Regions from separate parts of the Homo sapiens genome. Here region 2 is linked to region 1. The links come from fine-mapping of genetic effects on gene expression. A gene starts in region 1. The other region holds a variant in brackets. All regions are shown on one strand. Distances are between the middles of the regions. Region 1 holds the start of CCDC88C (coiled-coil domain containing 88C). Region 2 overlaps CCDC88C (coiled-coil domain containing 88C).

The links. PIP is the estimated chance that this variant, and not a neighbour inherited with it, causes the effect. A credible set is the group of variants that fine-mapping cannot tell apart.
Region 2: its variant is the best candidate, but not a certain one, in a credible set for the expression of CCDC88C in atrial appendage (GTEx, PIP 0.72).

What each region holds. Positions count from the first base shown.
Region 1 is chr14:91,414,691-91,419,990 of GRCh38, forward strand. It overlaps CCDC88C (coiled-coil domain containing 88C), which reads right to left and starts at 3,130. Exons shown (of 30, transcript NM_001080414.4): 1 at 2,941-3,130; 2 at 2,048-2,148. The coding sequence starts at 3,000. CCDC88C-DT (CCDC88C divergent transcript) reads left to right here and starts at 3,556. Exons shown (of 3, transcript NR_184261.1): 1 at 3,556-3,650. It also overlaps the pseudogene LOC112268126. RefSeq lists enhancers at 1,056-1,185, 1,576-1,705, 1,716-2,005, 3,611-4,255, 4,496-4,545 and a silencer at 2,626-3,545.
Region 2 is chr14:91,351,068-91,356,373 of GRCh38, forward strand. All of the region lies in intron 4 of CCDC88C (coiled-coil domain containing 88C), which reads right to left. Among named protein-coding and RNA genes, the nearest start is that of CCDC88C, 64 kb to the right of the region's middle. RefSeq lists enhancers at 1,398-2,369, 3,831-4,341. The variant T/C (reference allele first, on the strand shown) is at 2,961.

The DNA of each region.
Region 1 (5,300 bases):
GCCATTCAGCCTCCCCACGCTCCATTCCTCTGTGCCCAACTCATCCTGAGGGACCCAGAAGCACTTCTTGAAGTCTTAAGAGCTACAATTTACCAGTTCCCACTTCTGGAATGATTACCTTGGCATATCACAGAGAGAACATCTAAAATTGCCCAGGGAAGGGGAGAAACCCTCCCACCCCACACCACCCCGGCCGAATTTAGCCATGGGCCAAATGAGAACAAGTGATGAGCTGGCGTTTCTCAAAGGAACGGTCCAACAGGCTTTCCTGATTTACAAGCAAGTGGGAAACGCTTCAGGAATTCCAAAGGTCAGGGAAGAAAGAGAAACAGTCCCAGTGCTTTTGTTCCCCCCTCTGCCTGGGTGTAGGAGCTGAATGAAAAGGCTGGGGATACTGCTGGTTTTTTTAATTAAACAGTCTTGGGCTTGGGTAAGGACAGGTTGAAGTTTCACCGGTCATTGCGCCAATGGAATCCAGTAATTTTCAGGGTCTAACAGAATGAGGGGAGAGTGGCCAGAACTCGAATATGCCACGAGACAGCTTCCGGAAAACTCAGTTTCAACAAAGTTATCTAAGAAGTGCTGTCAAAGCTGGCAACAGATTTATGTTTTTCAATCTAATCAGACACTGAAGACTGGTAAGATTGGTAGTGACTTTTTTTCCTACACCCACAGCTGTGAACTTTAAAAAAAAAAAAGCAAAAACCATTAAACAGCATGACATCAAATGACTTATTAAAATAAAAGGAGGCCGGGCACCACAGTGGCTCATGCCTGTAATCCCAGCACTTTGGGAGGCCAAGGCAGGCGGATCACCTGAGGTCGGGAGTTCGAGACCAGCCTAACATGGAGAAACCCCATTTCTACTAAAAATACAAAATTAGCCGGGCGTGGTGGCGCATGCCTGCAATCCCAGCTACTCGGGAGGCTGAGGTAGGATAATCGCTTGAACCCGGGAGGCGGAGGTTGTGGTGAGCTGAGATCACGCCATTGCACTCCAGCCTGGGCAACAAGAGCGAAACTCCGTCTCCAAAAAAAAAAAAAGCAAGGTTCTTGAATTATTTTTTTCTAAACAGGCTGTTTAAGGCAATCTATATAAGCCACTTTCTGGATATGCCAAAGCAAACTGCTCCTCTGCCTTTGTGAGCCACAAACGAAGCTGATCTCTCATTAGCTAATAGATTTATGCTCCAGTATGACAACTTGCTCAGTCGTAGGTGAATAGGTGCGCACACGAGGCTGATCCACAGAGAACATTAGGATGTTTTATTTTGCTTCAAGTGCCTGTGAATCATCCCGACACTCAGTTCCAATGTTCCCTGCAGTTTGAGTTAAAAACAGAATGCAAAGGTAGAAGCCAACACCTACGTTGTGGCAAGCTGTCAATCAGGCCGTGCAGAGCTCAGCAACAGGAAAGGATGTGGTCAGATGTACTCGCTGGCAAGAGTAACTTCTACTAAGACCCTGTTCAGGCTGCATGCTTCCAAACAAACAGCACCATGGGACCCTCCTAACACTGTGACTTTAAACTCAGTCCATACAGTAGGACTTAATGAATTGCACTTGCTTTGGGGCAACTGAAAAAGGAAGATGAAATGTAAAGGAGCTCAGAAACACAGACACCCTCATCTAAAATGAAACTTTACAGTAACCCTCGGATGCCTGGGCCCACCCCGACACTTCCTGTAACCAGACACTCTCCGTTACAGTTCCTTGCCCTCCAAAAGGGGACTTTTTCATTTCATTGCTCAAACCACAATTAAGTCCTTGAGTCTGAAGTCAATTGCACTATCTACACCACGTAAATGACAGTCATTCAATTCCAAATTTCCTTCATCAAACCAACTGCCAGACCCACTGTCCTGGAGTTCTTCAAACACCTACGAATGTCCAACAGGCACGTTAATACTGAGATACCAGCGTCTCCACCTTCAGAGAACTACCCCCCACCCCACACACACCCCGCCATGCAACCTTCCACTCCATTTCTACTCTCAAACTTTCTAACGCACCATTCTTTCCTTCCTCCGAGAAGAAGGTAACTTACATTTGCAGCATAATTTGGTTCAAAAAGATGCCGTCCACTAAATCCATGTACATAGTCAGGTTGTCCTGGCTGCCGCTTCCAAACGGGCCAAAAGTTTTCACCTGCGGGGAGGGGGACGAGGAGAGAAAGACAGGAAGTCACCCCGTGCGCACAAACGGTCCAAAGCTCTCCCAGGCAGAGACTGGACGGGTCAGTGTGAGCAGAAGGGGGTCACCCACGCCCACACCACCCTTCAGCAGGCACCAAGCCCGGCCTTCTCCTAGGGCCTGTCTCCCCTCCCCGCGCGGGGCAACAGACACGAGACAGGAGGAAAAACTTCCTCGCCACTTTTCTCCCGCGTTCCAGAGCGGAAGAAATAAAAATAAAAAGGACTTTTCAATAAATGTCTCACGTCTCAAATCCATTGTAAATCAGTGCGCCCACCCCAGTCTGTTCGCTTTCCCATTCGGCGCCCCCCATTCCCCACCCGTCACCGCCATCCACCGGCTGGTCTCAGGGATTCAGAAAAACTACATGAGATATTTGGTTGGGAAGAATGGGGTCCTTTTCGGGAGTGGCTAAACCCCAGGGACAGGAGTGACCACTGGGACCCGGTCCGCCCCGAGGCAGCCAGCCTAGAGCCCCAGCGGGAACAGGTGTACCCGCCCGGCTCCTGGCCCGGCCGAAAGCGCGGCGGGGTCCCGCGCCGGACGCACAACGGGGGCGCCGGCTCCAGAGTTACAAAGCTCCGGACTCCAGGACGCGGCCCCAACCCCGGCCGGGAGCCACTTGCTGCGTCCCTCGCGCCCCGGAGCCACCCGGGGCCCCGGCCGTGTCGGGTCTGCGGCGTCCCGTCGCCGGGCTAGAGAGAAGCCGGTGCACCAACAAAGGGGCGGGGAGCCAGGCGCACTCACCCAGGTCACCAGCGGGCTCTGCAGGAAGAGCTCCAGGAGCTCCGAGACTGTCACGTCCATGCTGAGGCTGCGCCCGCCGGCTCCGCGCCCCCCGCCCCGCGTCCCCGTTCCCCCGCGCCGCGGCACAAAACGGCTCCGCAGCGAGCAGCGGGCGCGGGGCTGCGGCGGCTCGCGCCCGGGAGACAAAGGCGGGGCGCGCGAGCCCACGTTCCGCGGCTTCGGCGGCCCCGCGCCCCGCCCGGGTCTGGGGGAAGGGGAGGGCCAGCCGCTCGGGGAGGAACAATACGGGCGGCCCCGCCCCTCGGCGGCCCTGGGCGACCGGCGCGCCGCCTCGCGGTGCCAGCCCGGGAGCCCGGGAGCCCGGGCGCGGGACCAGGCTACGCGGGGCGCTGGGAGGGGACTGGTGGCCCGAGGCGGGTGGGTCGCGGGGCCCGGCTCCCCGCCCGTGGGACCGCGCGCCCTCGCCGAGCGCAGCCTCCCCGCGTGTGGGGCCCCAGCACGTGGCGCATCCCTGCGCGCGTGCGCGTGCAGCCGGGGCCCGAGCGCCACGTGCGAGCTGGGGTGCGCGGGCACTGGTGCGTGCCGGGAGCGGGGACGCCCTGCCCTCCGAGGTTGCTCTGCCCTCCGAGGTCGCCCGCAGCTGCCGCCCGCTCTGGGCTTGGGGACCTCGGCCCTGCGCCTTTCCGCACTCCTGGCAGGTGCAGCCCCAGGTACAGTCAAGAGGCCCCGCAAACCCCCGCTCCTCACGCTTGTGCGCGGCGCGATAAACGCGCCCCGACCCTGGGGCTGGGCTGGAGGGCAAAGAAGAAACTTTATGTTGAGTTTAGGCCTTAGGGGCGCGGCCCCTCGCGCCCTACCGTGCCCCACCGTGCCATGTTCCGGGCTGCCTGCCTTCTAAAAGTTCCTGCAGGAAGCAGGTGATGTGGCCTCCCCGACCCGGGCCCGCCCCCACCACTTTGCCGGAGGCGAGCTAAATTCCAGCCGGGGTTCCTAGCAGCAGCTTAGTGGCAGGCGACAGGAAAAAGGGCAAAGGCCCCAACTGGCTGGAAGGCAAGCCCGGGGGCAGGACCTCCTTGCGGGACGGCACGAGGCAGGAGCCGGCTCCAGGCTGGTCTCGGCCTGGTAATAATTTCACACCACCAGCCGGTCATTGTTCAAAGCACTGTAGACCATTTTACTAATTTAACCCTAACGATCGCCGCATTTCGCAGCTGGGCCAACTGGTACAGGGTTGACCCGAAGGGCCCTGCGTGGCGCTTGGCAAGTATACAGCAGGCACTAAATGGCTGCCGACAGGCTCGGTGGTAATTTTGAAAGTTGGCTCTGTGCAGCGTTGGGGCTGCGGCATCTGCTGGTGGCGAGTGGTATTACAGCCCAGCGCTGGCGGACCCCGTTGGGCTGGGGAGGGTTGTGAGATTATGGCCTGAGAGCCAAGGGGGTCGGTTAGGGGTCCCTAGAGACTGTGGAAGGCGGGGTAGCATAAAACACAATGGGGGACTGCGGAGGAACTAAAATTTCGAGACTACATGGTTTTGTTGTGCACCAGAAGTTCATTAGAGAAGTTCCTTAATTGCTTCTCCGCCCGCCGCGATGGCACTCGACCCCGCGGATTAATTTAACAACTCTGATGGTTGCTCTGTGAAATTTAAAGAACAGTGGTTTAAGCAAAGACCACAAGAAAGAAGAATTGAGATCAAAGAGGAGTGTGTGCCATCGCTGTGGAGGAGTTTCAGTTGTGAATCATGAAATGTCCTGTAAACCATTTCAAGGAGTTTGATTTTTATACCAAAAACAATGGGAAGACACTACAGGTTTTTGGAGCAGCAGCTCAGACGTGTCGAAAAAGATGTTTTGATCCCTAAAATAATGAGAGAAAAGGCCAGAGAGAGGTCTTCTGACAAGTTCAAGATTTTACCAAATGTTGCAAGAACTCTGGAATCCTTATGGTAGTAAAATGCTGGAAAGAAAATTCTGCATTGAAAGAATGTCTTAACAGCTCACTATAATGACCCAGCCTTTTATGAATAATGCAAAGTGGAAAACCTGAAGGAAAAGGAAGAATTCAGAAAAACTGGAATTTCTACAAAGAAAAGTCTACAGAAGCTGCCCACAAGTGTGTAGACAAATATTCAGATGACATTCAGGATCTCTAATACTCATGGAAGTCGTTTATAGAATAAACCTTAAATAATGGACTCAAGAATGTGTGTTTGCTAATTATGTGTGTATCCTAATTATGGAAATATTAATTTTATCTGAAATAAAAATCTTTTTTTCTTTTCTCTTTTTTTTTTTTTTTTTTTTTTTTGAGACAACAGAGTCTCACTCTGTTGCCCAGGCTGGAGTGCAGTGGCGTGCTC
Region 2 (5,306 bases), 64 kb before region 1:
AACCAGCGTTTGCTGACTGAGTGAGGTTAACTGTTAGCATCAAGTACCTGGGTTAGAACCGCAAAGAGAGCAGTTTCAGTTTCTCTCTTCTACGGCACGTATGTGTGCTTACTTATTCTACATTCTCTTCTCTTCTGGCTTACATGCTGGTGTGAACCACTAACTGCTTTCCCTGGTTTTGTACTTAAAAACCAGTTATTTCATAAGGATGCTCACGAGGCTGTCACAGTGATTTGAAAACAGCAGTGCACTGAACACGACCCTGTTGTCTCTCCTCAGTACACGGGCACACCCCAACACTCACTCACATGGGCACGGCTCTGAGGGCCCTCCTGAGGGCTCAGCTTACAACGAGAAGAGCTGTTTATTATTATTTTAACAGTTGGGGTACTTCCTAGGCACTGCCGAGGAATACTCAAGGTGGAGAGTTCCCCGTGGGTGGGCACATGGGGATGCTCCATCATATGTGTCCCCACCCATGGGGAAGGAGGCAGGCACCTCTACGCACGGGCTCACATTCTGGGGAGCGGCCCCTGTGGAATCCTCATGTCACCACGTGCCCCCACCCCCCGGCATTAACATAACCAGGCACACATATTTATCAAACGTGGACTCTGGCAGGCGCTAAGCTGCATGCCTGTGTGGAATGGTGCAGGAGCCTCCCGGGGGCACTCTGACTAGTGGCCCTTTACTCTAGTGTCTCTCTGCTGCCCATGTCAAGTCAGTCCCACCCCCACAGATACCCCAGCACCACCACGCACAACAGACGACAGCTACCCCCAGGTCATGTAGAACACTTTGAAATATCAGCCCCTCGGAGCACCCTCACCCCAAAAATGACCTCCTACCCCACCTGCCTGCCACGCCTGCAGAAGCTGAGAGCGAATTCATTTCCCAGCACCAAACAACTGAAGACCAGAAAAGCAGAATCAGCCACAAGCCTGCAGCTTGAGACTCAAGTTTGCCCTGGGAAGGGGCGAGGAGCTAGGGCAGGCAGGGGACGCTCTGGGAAAGGGTCCCTCCCAACCACCACGTGGAAAACTCAAACATAAAGACCTTTGACAAATAGCATCTCTTCCCTCCTCCGCAGACGGCGGTGGCCACAGAGAGTAGGGCTGCTGGAAGCCATGGTGTGGCTGTTGCAGCCAGCGGCGTTCTCTGTGTGCCTGGGCCATCGCTAGGAAGTTTACTAACAAAGTCTGGTCTCCAGGCAGATCCGCGGGTGCTTGGAGGCCGGCGTGTGGGCCGCACTGTGACGCTCGGCTGGGCTTGGTGTCAGCCAAACTCTGCACCTTCCTAGGAAAGGAAAGCCTCGGCTCCTGGCTTAAGTGCCCCAGCACCGCACGTGGACTGGAGCCCTCATTTCCGGATCCAACAAGCAGCACAGAAGCAAAGAAGCAGGATAGAAACGGGGTAGTTTAAAACAGCATTTGGTTGCTTTTCTGAACCTTCTCTCTCAAGGATGAAAGAGGAAATTTTAGAACAATCAAAATGCCTGCAAGATTAGCTTTTTCTTATTTCTTCCCTCCCATTCAAACGCCCAAAACGTTTTGCAAATATGAAAATTATATATATATACACACACACATATACACTTATACACAGGATTAGAGAATTATGGCCAGGAGAAATAAAATAAAAACAACAGGGGTAGGGGAAAAGAACACAAGAATGGCTCATGAAGCCTGAGTGGCCGACCCTCAGCCTCCACACCACACGGTGAGCAGGCATGGAGCCAGGGGCAGGACTGGGAGGGCCGCAGGGCCAGGAAGACAGGGCTTTTGATTTTTAAAAGCACCATCTCTGCAGCAGGAGGACTGTTCCTCACAAGCCGGACTCTGAGCCTGTGCCTGGGTTGCCAGGATGGAGGTCAGTAAGCCTGGGGCACACCCAGCCCTCACAAGTTCCCCGGGGCCCCCGAAGGAAGGCAGGGCTGTGCCGTGTGGGCTACGAGAGAGAGGTTTCCATGGGATCTGAAAAGCACTCCAAGGACACACTGGCAGGAGAGCAAATCAATACTGAGAGGGTTAAATATTAAATTCCAAGGAGTTTCAGGAGGTCTGTTTCCTCTGGCCCATGAATCCTAAACCTCAGCTGTCACAGAAGGCCTCCTCCTTGCCCCAGGCTTGCTGATCCTCATGAGACTTCCAGCAACTTGCACTCCCCTGAGCTCGTTCCACCTAGAACACCTTTCCTCGCTTTCTCTGTCCGTGGCTTGCCCAGATATTGCCTCCTCCAGGAAGCCTTCCTGGCCTGCCCAAGCAGAACTCATCAGCCCCCTTGCACTGGCTGTGAAGCACATTCTTGCACCATCTTCTGTCCTAGAATAAATGTCGCAGGACTCTGTCTTCCCTTCCTGCCTCAACCCAGACTGGGGGCTTCCTGAGCAGAGGCGGCCTGTTCATCTCACCAGCAGAGGGGAGCTAAAGGAGGGGCTTGGGCTGAGCTCCTTTTGTGAGCCTCTGGCTGAGGGGCAGCCAGCTAAGATGAGGAAGGATGAAAAGGTACTCCAGTCTTTTATTTGGGGAGGTCAGAAGTCGGGCCTTCTGGCTTCCTCAGCCGGTGCAGTAGATAGAGTTCTGCACTCAGCTGAGAAGGAAGGTCGGTCACAGCATTTTGTGCGCACAGAACCTTGTCTCTTCAGGGTGCTTCCTCTGCTGCTGGAATGCGCACCCTCTGTAACCATCATAAGAGAGAGAAAACATAGGACAGAGGGCCAGGCCGCTGAACGGCAATTAATGAAACCCCAAGGCTCTTCTCAAAGGTTCCAGGGGCATTCAGACAGGACCCTGTAGGGTGTGCATATGCAGTCGCAGCCCCTCCAGGGCTTCCAGGAATCCTGCTTGGCATTTAGAATGTAAGAAACATCAGGGCAGACCAGTGACAGTAACCCTCTTGCTTGGAACCAGTGGCTTACTGTCCACAAAAGTAACCATCTGTGCAATTTATGGTGTGAAATC[T/C]GTCTTGCGCCTATGGGGACCTCCATGCTGTGTGCCTCTGAATGAGCTCCTCCGCTCTCTGGGCTGGGCTTCTACACCTAAATGGCTCGTTCCCTTCCATTCTAAATGGCTTCGGTGGGATCGGCCATGTGTAAGTCTGGAAACCACTACTATACTTGGATACAAACCCTGGAAGAAAAAACAATGCTTTCTTCCAGTGCAACTGTCCTGTGATTCATCGCAGAAAGTAATTTGCTAACACCCTGGCTTCCCGTCAGACAAATCTAGTCTTTTCTTGTGCGTGTGGCACAGTGACAGGCCTGGCTGCTGAGCAAGATGCTGAGAAGCCAGAGCTGGAGGGACCCCGGAGCTGGTCTAGCTCCATCCAGCATCCTCCCTCACAGCACAGACGTGAGCTCTTGCTTCTCACAGGCTTCTTGTAGAAAACACTCACCAGTAACCGCGAAAGATATTTAATAGCTGTGCAGCTGGCAAGATGGTGAAGGCGGTTTTCAGGGAGTCATCTCAGGCCTAGGGGAGACAGACACGTGGTACTGGGCAGAGAATGAATCTCACTTGACCCTGACCACTGACAACTGGCCTTCTTATCTATGAGAGCAAGTGGGTAACACCTGTCAGGGGCCCCAGCTTGACGGGAGAGCAAAGTGGAGAGAGGAAGAGAGAAAGGTGGGCCCCCTGCATGGATGCTGTATTTACTGAGCACCTACTACATGCCAGACACTGATCTAGGCATTCGAACGCACTGACAACAACAACAAAAAACCCCAGGATTCCTGCTGTCATGAGAGCGTGCACCCTAACGGGGGAAAAGTATGCAATGCCACAGAGGGGAAAAAATAAGTGAACAGTATAGGCTATTCACAGGTGCCAAAAGATATGGAGAAGGGAAAGCAGAGCAGAACAAAGAAGACAGGGCGTGTGGCAGGAGAGACAGGTGGGGCCACACTGAACAGGGGCTCACAGGAGGTGTTTACACAGCTCGCTGGCAGAGGGACCGGCAGGTGCACAGGCCCTAGTGCCCGGAGCGGGCTGCAAAATGACAGTCGGCTGACCTGAGGAGTGGGCTGCTCGGGCTGCCATGCTGGGAGCAGACTGCAGGGGGCAGAGGTGAGGACACTGCCCTGGGGAGCAGCCAGGCGGAAGCAGGGGAGCTGGTGGTGGTGAGGAGGGCTGCAGAGGAGAGCTCGGCTTCTGGGGGTGCACTGAGGGTAGACCCGGGACACCAGGCGACAGCGCAGACACGGGTAAGAGGGAAGGATAAGGATGGCTGAGGGGAAACAAGGCGAAGGACGCTCTACGGCACTCAGGCCCCAGAAGCCTGCACACCGCCTCACTATGGGGGCAGGCTCTTATAAGAGCCGTCATATAAAAGTGAGGGCGGGGTTCAAGCAGGGTCCAGCCAGAGCCCAGGCCGTGCTCGGAGAAGCAGAGACTACAGCAGTGAGGCACCAGACAGACCCTCCCCTCCCCGGGGGCGTGGGTGCAGCTGAGAGTGAGCTGCAAAACCACAGCACCATCAGAGCAGAAATCCAGAGACGGTCCCAGGGCAGACACAGCGTAAGGGAGTGAGGAGTTTGGGCCGGGACGGGCAGATGCTGAGGAGAGATTTCAAAAGCAATTTTCAGTATACGAAGTACTGTTTCATAGTTACTGCACTGTCCTTGACTTCCACCCAGGATAGGAAGAGAGTGAACACCCTTCTGTCTGATGGGTGTGGGGGGTTAAGTGAGACATACAGAAAAACTGTAAGTTGTGGCACCTCCCTTTTTTAGGTCAGAGAAAGGGGACAAATGCGTAGACTCTCAGGGTCTTTTAGTATCATTGTGTTGGGGAACAGTGGGTGGACCAGATGCTCTGTTGGGATCTGGAATCTGGGAGCTTGTGATGCTATGTGCCCAAAACAGAAAAGTTACCCCAAACTATAAAACGTTATAAATAACAGTACAGTGTTAGCATCCATCAAAAAGAGTACAAAGCAAGCCCCTCACACACGACGGGGATAGATTTAGTCAAAAAGCACACACATGCCCCACCCCGGGCAACCATACAAATTAAAAAAACACCAACTTTGTTCTTTGTTTAAAAAGAAACGAAAAGAGCTTCACACATCTATTTTTACAATTTAAAACTGAAAATGCTATTTCATAAATACATCCCTCTGCCCCTAGCACTGGTGTCTGCATCTTCCTGCTGGTGGATGTCCGCTGCCAGCCTCCTCTGCTCTCAGAGCACCATGGGACCCCTGTCAAACCTACTCATCCGTGCACCCAGCTCCCCGTCCCCCAGCCCTGACACGTTGCCCTCTGTGTGCAGCCTGCCGAGGCCACCGTCTAGCATGTCAGTCAG